Homo sapiens: one gene and its partners. The protein of the gene in region 2 interacts with the protein of the main gene of each other region in a biochemical or structural test. Each region holds a gene or a part of one and is shown on either strand. Other genes may lie near its edges.

Region 1 (3,752 bases), on a different chromosome or scaffold from region 2:
CTCTCTCTCCATTACAGCTAAGCGTTCCCAGACCCAGCAGAAACCCTGGGTTCCTGCAGAGCACTCAACGTGCAGCAAAGTGTCCCAGCTCTGCAAAGGGCAGCTGGAAATGGATTTAAAATGGCAACGCGGACCAATCAGCGCTGCCGCGCCAAAGCAGACATTTACACGCGCCTCCTCCACATGCACAGCGGAACCTGGCGGTGCCTAACTCCTGCTTAGGGCTGCAAAGTAGGCGTTTTTATTCCACGGTGGTCTGTATCTTTGAAAAAAATAAATTCTTCCCCAGGTGAAAGTTTTTATTTTGGAATTAGTCCAAAATAATTTTGGGTGTGATGTGTGAAAATCTGAACCTAATTTTTTCAGAGTTTTGTGTTATTCAAGGATGAAAAGAGGTACATTTAAAAATGTACTCCACCTTTTAAAAACGGACTGTGGCCATTATGGTGTTCACATAACTCAGAACAGCCCAGGCCATAAAATTAGGACTTGGCAGAAAGAGAGTTCTCAGGCAGAAGGTTAAATCGAGGTAAACTGAAGGGAGAGTTGGGCAGTGAGTGCAATTGTGGTGTTAGGAATCTACAAGGTGCCCTTTACCCTGGGAACATCGGATTCCCGGGGAGGGGGATGGGGAGGGAACTTCGGTTGCCTCTAGTCTTTCCTGGAGAAAAAAGTTCAATGAAGAAGCTGGGGCGCTCTGTGTGTGCACATTGTTTGCATGTGTCTGCGAATGTGCATGTCTATCTGCGTGCCTGTGTGTATGTGTGTGTGTGTAAATGCGGGTGTTTACCAGCGCATGAATGCCCCCGTGTCCACGTGTATCTGCGTGCATGTGCTTACACGCGTGTTCGTGTGTATCTGCATGCATGTCTCCGTGTATGTGCGCGCTCGCCCGCCCGCAGGCTCTGTGGTGAGGGCATTCCGAGGCGGAGTACGGCTGTCAGGGGACCTCTCCCACTCCACTGCAGTCCCTTCCCACTCACAGTGAACCGGTGCGCTGCCTGAGGTGCAGCCTAGACGCTTCCTGCAAAGTGTTGGCTCGGCACGGTAGAGGCGCAGGTAAAGGCCAAGCCCCGAAACGTGGCTCCGGGACAGTCACGTTCCCGCGCCTTCCCAGGACAACTGCCCAGGGGTGACCTCGAGAGGCGGGTGGAGCTAGGCCCACGGCGAGCCAGCCCGGGATCCCCGGCCTGTCCCTTTAACCCCGCCGCCGGGCGGGAGCACGTGAGCGGGGCTCCGGGTGGCACCCGGGCGCCGCCGCCGCCGAGGCAGTTGTATTTCGAACGCTGCCTCTGGCTAGCAGCCAGGCGCCTTGGCTCGGCGGTCCGCCTGGCCTCCCTCCTCCTCATACTTTTCTTCCTGCGCAACCCCCTCCCCTTTATCCGCCCACGATTAGAGGTGGGCACTCCCCCCACCACCACCCCCTCCCCAAGCGCAAGCGCGTGCACGCACACACACCACACACACTCACACTCACACACACTCACACACACTCATCCCACTTGAATCTTGGGGCAGGAACTCAGAAAACTTCCAGCCCGGGCAGCGCGCGCTTGGTGCAAGACTCAGGAGCTAGCAGCCCGTCCCCCTCCGACTCTCCGGTGCCGCCGCTGCCTGCTCCCGCCACCCTAGGAGGCGCGGTGCCACCCACTACTCTGTCCTCTGCCTGTGCTCCGTGCCCGACCCTATCCCGGCGGAGTCTCCCCATCCTCCTTTGCTTTCCGACTGCCCAAGGCACTTTCAATCTCAATCTCTTCTCTCTCTCTCTCTCTCTCTCTCTCTCTCTCTCTCTCTCTCTCTCTCTCTCTCTCGCAGGGTGGGGGGAAGAGGAGGAGGAATTCTTTCCCCGCCTAACATTTCAAGGGACACAATTCACTCCAAGTCTCTTCCCTTTCCAAGCCGCTTCCGAAGTGCTCCCGGTGCCCGCAACTCCTGATCCCAACCCGCGAGAGGAGCCTCTGCGACCTCAAAGCCTCTCTTCCTTCTCCCTCGCTTCCCTCCTCCTCTTGCTACCTCCACCTCCACCGCCACCTCCACCTCCGGCACCCACCCACCGCCGCCGCCGCCACCGGCAGCGCCTCCTCCTCTCCTCCTCCTCCTCCCCTCTTCTCTTTTTGGCAGCCGCTGGACGTCCGGTGTTGATGGTGGCAGCGGCGGCAGCCTAAGCAACAGCAGCCCTCGCAGCCCGCCAGCTCGCGCTCGCCCCGCCGGCGTCCCCAGCCCTATCACCTCATCTCCCGAAAGGTGCTGGGCAGCTCCGGGGCGGTCGAGGCGAAGCGGCTGCAGCGGCGGTAGCGGCGGCGGGAGGCAGGATGAGCGCACGCGGTGAGGGCGCGGGGCAGCCGTCCACTTCAGCCCAGGGACAACCTGCCGCCCCAGCGCCTCAGAAGAGAGGACGCGGCCGCCCCAGGAAGCAGCAGCAAGTCAGTACGAGGGCGCGGTGGGGGCACCAGCCCACCCCGTCCCCACTGCCGGGGCCCAGACACGCGCGGGGCGGCCGGAGTGCGGGAGCCCAGTCGCCGCGGCCGTCGCACACTGCCCGCCGGCCGGCCGGGGGGAGCGGCGCAGACCCCACGAGTGCGCCGCGCGGCCCCGGGGCGCCAGCAACCCTCCGGGCGGGGAGGTGGGGAGCCGCGGCGGGCGGCCCGGGGAAGGCGGGAGGTGGGGTCGGGCGAAGCGCGTCCTCGGACTTTCGCTATTGTGCACGGCCCCGAGTGGCGCGGTGTCGCCCAGTGACTGGAAGCGACCGGGATCCGACAAACCCGGGCTCGCAGGCGCTTTCCGAGTTGCTTTTGCAACTGCCCGGGAGGAAGGAGGTGCCGGGGACCCGGGCGCTTCGGCCGATCTGGGCTGAAGGGGCTAGAGTCTTGGGGGCCGGAGGCTCTTTCTCCCGCCTCCCGGGGCTGCTCGCGGGTCGGGGGCTGGCGCGCCGCAGCCGCCCCCTTGGCGCCCTCCTCCAAGCTCTCGGTGGCCCAAGACTCGCGCCCTCCCGACAAAGAACGCATGGAGACCCGGCTGCCTGGTCCTTTTTGGGCTCTTTAAATATGCGGCGGCCGCCGGAGGGAGCCCGGGGCAGGGGCTACGGGGAGCCTGGTTCCCCGCAGGACGGGGTTAACTCGCCCAGCTAAGGGCGCGTTGAAAGGAGTGTCCAAGAGAGTGCAGGGTAGCCAGGGTCGCTTCCTTGTCAGGGGCCCGGTCCCCCTTTTGCCCCTGGATCTCGCGCCTCAGAGCTGCAGCCATTAAATGCTCTTCTCCAAGGCCAGTGGCCGGGGGTTGAGTAGGGGACGATCGAGGGGCGCCCGGGACCCTGCGGAGTGGAGGGTTTTGTCTGCGGATGCAACCAATTAAGCGTGCAGCCGGCGCTTGCAGAGCTGCGCTCAGCGCGCAGGGCTGGGGGTTTTGTTCGCTGTAATTTCCAAGCCGCGGCGGGCAGAGTTGGAGCGGGATATGTCTATTGAGAACATTTAAACTCCACTTTCTCGGGCTTTAAAACTTGCTCTCTGCTTAGTCTTAAATCGCTTCCTTCATGGCAAACACGCCGATTAGAAAATAATCCTAGAGTCCCAAAGTTGTCCGAGAGCAAGGTGGGGAAACTGAACAATGTTTGCTTGCCAGTGCATTTTAGAAAAATTGAGAGTTGTACCTTTTTGAAATCATCAAAGGAAACAAGCCGATCTAGAGGCCCCTGAGTTTTCCCGCTCTGCCCAAGCGACACTTTACACCGCATTTGAATCCTGTTTTACACCTCCCAG
Region 2 (3,652 bases):
ACTTTATAACTGAAATTGCATATATTTGCAAAAGTGAAGAGAAAGAGAGGAAAAGGGTGTGTTACACATGAAACTAGGTCAATGTCAGAGAGGAAAGCTTATTTTAAATTATACAATTCTTCCATGTTATCTGCTGTTACAGAAAATAACCTGGGCACAAGTGGTCTTGACAGGCTATCAAAAGATACTACTGCCCACTTTAAATCAGGAAAAAAGTAGGCACTAAAGCTCCCTAATGCAAGCTTGATGTGCCTCTGAAATATAAACAGAGAAAAGTTATAGAAAAGTTATAAAAAAGTTGAAAAGAATGGATGACCCAAGTCACAGTCCTTCAGATGAAAATAAATGTAGGTCCTTATATTTTGTATGGTACAAGTTTAAGATTTGTAAAACCAATTCTGTTATTCTGCAAGTAATAAGCAATAAAAATAAATTTCCACTTTAGAAGAAAATATATGTTCAATCCAAGACTATCTGCAGAGTTTGAATGTCCAGCAATAGAGAAATGGTTAGGTAAATTGTGGTAAATCAACTCAATGGACTATAATGTAACCTGTGAAATGTTTGATATGATATTAAGTGAAGAGACATAAAGGCTACAAAATTCTACATTTTCTTTCATTATAACTAATGTAAAATGTTATTTAAAAGGACAAAACCTGGAAGATAATATGTATAATGATGTCAGTTCCATCACAGTTCTGGAACTAAGCTAATCTTTCCTTTAAAAAAAATTTTTTTTTTGAGACAGAGTCTTGCTCTGTTGCCCAGAGTGCACGATCTCAGTTCACTGCAAACTCTGCCTCCAGGGTTCAAGTGATTCTCCTGCCTCAGCCTCCCAAGTAGCCAGGATTACAGTCACGTGACACCATGCCCAGTTAATTTTTGTATTTTTAGTAGAGATGGGGTTTCACCATATTGGCCAGGCTGGTCTTGAACTCCTGACCCAAGTGATCTACCCACTTTAGACTCCCAAAGTGCTAGGATTACAGGTGTGAGCCACCATGCCCAGCCTAAAAAAAATTCTTTAACTTCATTATATGGTCATTGCATTTTTTGAGTGAGGGCTCTAATTAATTTCAGAGTTATAGTGTAGCTATCTAGTCAACTATATTCAATAGATAAATAACACAAGCCACATATGGATTTTAAATTTTCTAGTAGCCACACTGGAATGGTAAAAACAGGTAAAATTAACTTCAATATATTTTATTTAATCCAATGTATCCAATGTACTATCATTTCTACATGTAATCAATATTTTAAAAGTATTAATGAGCAATTTTAAACTCCTTTTTGGTACAATCATAGAAATCTCAATTCAAACTAGCCACATTTTCAAGTGCTCATATAGCTAGTGGCTATCACACTGGGTATAGATGATTTACATCCCTCACACCTCAACATATTATGATAGCAATGAAAAGCAGGAGTTTGCAAGTTAAATTATAAAGACATTATCTCTGAATTGATGGAGTCATAATGATAACTAGGCAGCCCTATACTTATAGAGTCAAGTACAATTTTAGGTCTGTAACAGGCTTTATGGGGCCAAAGGAAAAGAACTTGCATCTGATTACCTTGTGTAGTTCTCTTTGTATCCAGAAATATCATCATTGGGAGATCGCAGTCTTCGTTGAGATGGTGCCTCCAGATGCCAATAGTTGATGCGGTTTAGGAACATTTTTGCCAACTCAACTATTGTTTGCCTTTCTTTTGCTGGCAGGTGACTAAATTTGTACTGCACAAAGTTATTCACACCCTTAAAAAGAGGGAAGGCAATTTCTTCATGCAGCTATGCAATCATACTAATTCTGAACACCCACACAGCCAGCATGATTGGTGGTTATTAGCAAAATAACAGACATTTCTCTATTCACAAAAATCTCTTCCTTTTCCCTAAAAGAAAATAGCAATCCCCAGAGGGAATCTTGCCTCAGATCACGGTGGATGAAAAGTGACAAGACAGAGAGGCTGTGAGTTGTGATTCTACGCCTGCTGAAATCCTGAAGCATTAAGGAGAAAATCAAAACCATGGACTGAAAAGGTCAAAACCCCTGAAACAAGAAAATATGACTGTTGTGCAGAATAATTATTGCTTTACTATCAGCAGAGTAGCCCACATATAATGCAGTTCTTAGATAAATATTGTTTTTACATTACAAAAATGCTAATCAAAAACCTGCTATCATGCCTACCACTGAACTAAACAACTAAAATTTAAACTCTTTACTATCATTTGTTTGAAGTCAATAAGCTTACCAAAATATATATATCATTCAAAATTATGGGCTTTTAAAAAAACTGTTAATTTAATCTTTCTACAGAATATTTCCATCTCATCTAATTTCAAATAAAAGAGCAATGAATTCTTATTTAATAGAGTTTGGAGGCAAAATAAAATTTACTGAAAACTGACTGATAAAAATGCATTTATTTTTAAGGATTCTGGTATCATGACTTCAGTAGTCATTCTCATCAAAAAATTCAGTCCAGAGTGTTTTTGTTTAGCCAAACAATCAAAGGCTAAAAAAGTGATGCTAATGAGAGATACTGACAACACCTAACAGAAAAACTCTTTACATTTTAACAGATTCCCTGAGTAAAACGGCTTCTTTCCAGGAATCATAATGTAGCAGGAAGTCCATTTCTGGGTACAAAATCTCATTTCTTTTTTGCTTTTTTTGCTTGACTTACAATGTTTTTCACATTGCTACTAAATCCCCTCACCTCAATAGGCTTTCTCAGACAGTGCCAAGCAAATGGACAAAGACTTCATTTTAAAGCACCAACAACAAGAAAAAGCACATTTCATGTGTTCTTCTTACAAACTACATGTTCTACTTAATGTTTTTCTTCCCCAAACACACAGTAAACTGTGAGTATGTAACAACCCTAAAAGGCAAAAGCTAGATCATGTATTAAATTAGGTATACACCTCTGATCCAAAGCCTCCAGGACAATTTCCACAGACTGGTAAACATCTCTAACCTGGGTATGGAGGAGGGAAGCCGTAGATAGAGATATAAAAGGAGGATTAAAAGATTTCTTCAGCCTTGAGCCAATAAAAAGAGGGCTTTTAAAATCTTTTTACCTGTTCAATGCTAGGTTTTTCAAATGGGGGTTTCTTTTCCAAAGAGCCTTCAACCACAGGTTTTCCTCTTTGTAAAATAGACTTTCTCAAGAGCTGCAAAGAAATCATTAAAAAAAAGAAAAAGAAAAACTTAATTGGTATGTCTATCTCTCTCTCCTCTCTCTTCTGTTTCTGTCTGTCTCTCTCTCTCTCTCTTACACACACACACACAGCCTTTAAAGGAAGTTACCATATTCTATTTATCTTAACTATATATAAACAAATCCTTAAGTCAATAAAATGGGCAACTATCAGGTAACCCAAATTGGCCTTCATGTCCACGGCCAGAGTTATGAAGAAATGGACACCTTTCATGTTCTGGGCAGCCTAGGCCACCCATGCTGGTCCAACAGACACCACCGTCCCATGCACTTCCCTCTTCTCCCCACTGTTTCTGGCTTTCCATTGACCCAGAGGCCTGGTATGCAACCCTACACACTTGGCACATGCCCATCCAGGCCACTATAGGTGTGCTGAAGCTCTAGAGGATCTTATTTAAAGACGTGAGAGACCAAGATC
Region 3 (3,652 bases), 1.7 Mb from region 2:
GAACATTCCTTTAAGACAGACAGATTTCATTTTGCGCATCAAACAGATGCATCTGGAGATTGCTCTCGGTCTCCTGATTGTTCCGATTAGTTAATTACTTTATACAACACATCTGCTGTATCGATGCATGAATTATACATCAGCTGCCTGTGGTGGCTATTTTTTCATGTTACTTCTACCTTCCTGCTCTGATGCGCTTGGGAAGACAATTTAAGGTGTACTGCTTTCTCCTGAGCCATCATGAAAAGCTTTAATGTATTAACCGATTTCCTTTCATTACTCTGTTCATATGAATTAAAAATCATAAAAAAATAAATAAATAAATAAGACTGTGGTAATAGTGAATAAGACAGTCTTTCACAAAATGTACACAGATGGCACTGTTCATGATATGCAAAAATATTTTTTTCTTAAGTAAACTTTATGTAAAATGCCTTCTTGTGATGCATTATTTAATTGACTAAACGTAAAAAGTCTTGTCTTTTGATAACCTGCACAAACCTACACATTTTTTGTGTGTGTGGGGGGGGGGATTGCTTTTAAATTATACATTGAAGTTAGGAAAAAAGGCAGAAGGATAGGGTAACAAAATCGATCTGTATTAACCTTTCTGAAACACAGACTAAAAAAAAATTGAAGGTCGACCAGAGAGAAATGCTTCATTTCAAAAGACCAGGTAAGAAGAATGTTTCACCCTAGATTTGCTGTCTTGACTCACCTGTGTAACTGAATTTTCAATGTGACCACATGATACACATCTTGAAGCATATCTGCTACTGTAGCATCAGGGGCATCTGTCACGTAAGACAGTGGAACTGGATTCCACTTTCCAACCTGGATTAGCCCTATTTCAGATAAAGAGAATATGTCACTAAATATTTTACCCTCAGATAATATATCTACTAGAAGGGTGTTCTTTTCTTTTCTACTACCCCTACCACAAGCAGTACCGTTATTTCTGTTTGAATGATTCCCTTCCCTCTAAAAGGCAGGTCAATGAAAATATTCACAGCTTAGCTTTCCAAATTGTAAAATTATGTAAATGACTGTAGGGTTGTTTATTATTTTGGAAATAAAACCCCATCAATAAAACCTATGCATAAGGCCACATTTTCCTAACTTACAGGAAGTTCTAATAAGACATAGCCGAACCAGTTCTAAATGGCTTTATGATTTAGATAAGATTCTCTATTGCAGTGGGAATCAGCATTGAAAAATACTTTGCAGCCCATAAAACCATCAGAAACAGAATAAAAGAAACAGAACTAGATATTCAGTCATAAATGCAAATTGACTCTCAACAGTCCATCTGCTCAAATACGCTCCTCACTTCCTTGTGGGTCCTCAGTGGAGCAGATTATTAAGGTCAATAAGCATACTAATGATTCAGCTGAAGTAATTTAAAAAAAAAATCTACCTCGACATTCCACATGAGCAAAATGTGTGTTAACTAAACCAAACTGAATTAAGCCAATTTTTTAAAGCCACAGCCTATAAGGAACCAATGTAATACACAGGCTACAGTTCTTTGAATAAAAATATTCAGTGCTTTCTCTGCAAGGTAAACAAAGAATGCTAAGCAATTTTTCCAACCCCACGTACACATTATTTACCTTTGGCCTGGGCAGCAGAGCTATGTGAATAACCTAGAGACAGCAATGCCATTTCGATCAGCTGGTTGAAAAGCATATCCTTTCTCACCAGCACAAATTCTGCATGCTCCTCCTTGCAATCATATTCAATGGCGTTTTCATAATGTTCCACCACACAGAAAACTGGCAGCATGGTTCCTATCAAAAAGATGAAGAAGAAGAGATGGAAAACCAACAATCTTCAGAAATACAGCTTGGGGGTGGCGGGAGGAAATATTAGCCATGAAAATAAATAATCACAAGAGATTCACTGTGCTTCCAAGGCAGACTGGGTACAGTACAGGCAAATGCACACAAATATATACATTCTCATATTATTTAAAGTCGTAACAGAAATATTTAAGTAGAATATGAACTTGGTCCTAAGGTAAGCTGTGCTCTAAATTAACAGTGCATTTTCCAAAAGCAATGAATGCAGAATTACCTTTCTGATCAAATAATAATGGTGACGAAAGAGAAATAAATGTATCTTCTCTAATTTGCTATGAGTAGTATACAGTATGCAAACATAACTCACCATTTATCTTCAGAAGAACCCACCTTTCTACTGCTTACATGATTTTGTTAATAATAAACTTTTCCTGGGTTTGTGTCCAAACAAATTATCTTCGACCACGAAATTTTCATTTTCTTCCTTTTTTAGATATTAACTCTAACTGGTTCCACAAATCATTTTCTTCCTTTTTTAGATATTAGCTCTAACTGGTTCCACAAAAAGTACTTAACCAAACTGGTGCTCATAATACACAATTTCAATATCTGCATAATGTAGAAAAATAACATTTGCTTTTATGAATACTCATTTAACCTACCTAACTAAAAAGAGAGCACGGTACCCATAAGTCTTTAAAATCAACAATCTTTGTTACAGTAAATAAGGTAAAAATGAGAGATAGAAAAGGAAACTGACATACTAGGATAAAGGAATCTGCATAGATTTGGTGTGCTCTCTCTTTATATATTTTAATCCAATACAGTAACTCAGTAGCTAGATGATTAATAAGCACCGGCCACACTACTATTAGAAAGAGGCTTCTTCTAGAAATTGATATTACGGAATGCTGTGGTACTCAAGGTGTTTATGCAGCGCACTGTCAGACTTCCAATGATAACGGAAAAGGGTTAAAAGCAGATGCATCTGAATTGTACTGTGGCAAACTGCCAGAAGGGTATCATCTTTAGCATAAATGATGACAAGGGTTACTTTAACAGGGCACCCAGGATCCACAATTAGTCCTACAATACTAATGCCTCTATAAGCTCTGTCCTCTGGACTCACAGAATCCTACCAACTTCTGAAGATGACTTAGTGCACACCAACCGTAGCTAAAAATCAGGATTTCCTACTGACACCAGAGAGGCCCTTCAAAGATTCTCTATTTGCTTGTTTCTGCTGAACAAAAGCCGGCAATAAAACAGCTACATCTTTCTACATGTGAGTCTTCACCAAAGCTTTAGTGAACTGTTCACAAGAGATTCTAGGTCTGACAAAACCCTTTAGGTTTACTTAGAAAAACTCACAAACTCATTCGGAGGTACCAATAGGCTAGGCATGAAAAACAAGCCGCAGAGCTTGCCAATATTTTTGTCATTCATTCAGCTGTTTTATACCAGAGAAAGAACCCGTCGGGGATCAGAAGACAACTTGGGGAGACCACAGCAAAAATAGCAATATGCAAACTGGCGATTCCTTCCTTGGCTTGAAGGTATTCTGGCAAAATCGCCTAAACAAATAAAACCATTCAATCCCTTTTTCTTAGTAGTGTTTTCTCATCTCAGCCATAATTTTCATTTAGCACCTATCAGACAGAAACCATGCACATGAAAAATAAGATGAAAATGTTAATAAAAACCCACAAAAAGACTTTAGTAATTTTGTTATTTGGAGTATCTGAGACCCTCCTACAATTAAACTGCATTTTTAGAATACATCCAAAACAAAACAAAACAAAACCAAAAAGCATTTGAGCAGGAAGTGAATTTACTGTACTTTTAGTTTT

The links.
Region 1: the proteins of KAT2B (region 2) and HMGA2 form a complex in vitro, tested with the Homo sapiens proteins (one study listed by BioGRID).
Region 3: of the proteins of KAT2B (region 2) and SATB1, one has a biochemical effect on the other in vitro, tested with the Homo sapiens proteins (2 studies listed by BioGRID, with this or other methods).

What each region holds. Positions count from the first base shown.
Region 1 is NC_000012.12:65,822,959-65,826,710, forward strand, and holds the start of HMGA2 (high mobility group protein HMGI-C), read left to right. Parts: upstream 1-1,524; 5' UTR 1,525-2,312; coding exon 2,313-2,423; intron 2,424-3,752.
Region 2 is NC_000003.12:20,099,397-20,103,048, reverse strand, and holds part of KAT2B (histone acetyltransferase KAT2B), read right to left. Parts: intron 3,188-3,652; coding exon 3,095-3,187; intron 1,763-3,094; coding exon 1,581-1,762; intron 1-1,580. UniProt on the Homo sapiens protein: Functions as a histone acetyltransferase (HAT) to promote transcriptional activation. Has significant histone acetyltransferase activity with core histones (H3 and H4), and also with nucleosome core particles.
Region 3 is NC_000003.12:18,415,289-18,418,940, forward strand, and holds part of SATB1 (DNA-binding protein SATB1), read right to left. Parts: intron 1,791-3,652; coding exon 1,614-1,790; intron 846-1,613; coding exon 719-845; intron 1-718. UniProt on the Homo sapiens protein: Crucial silencing factor contributing to the initiation of X inactivation mediated by Xist RNA that occurs during embryogenesis and in lymphoma.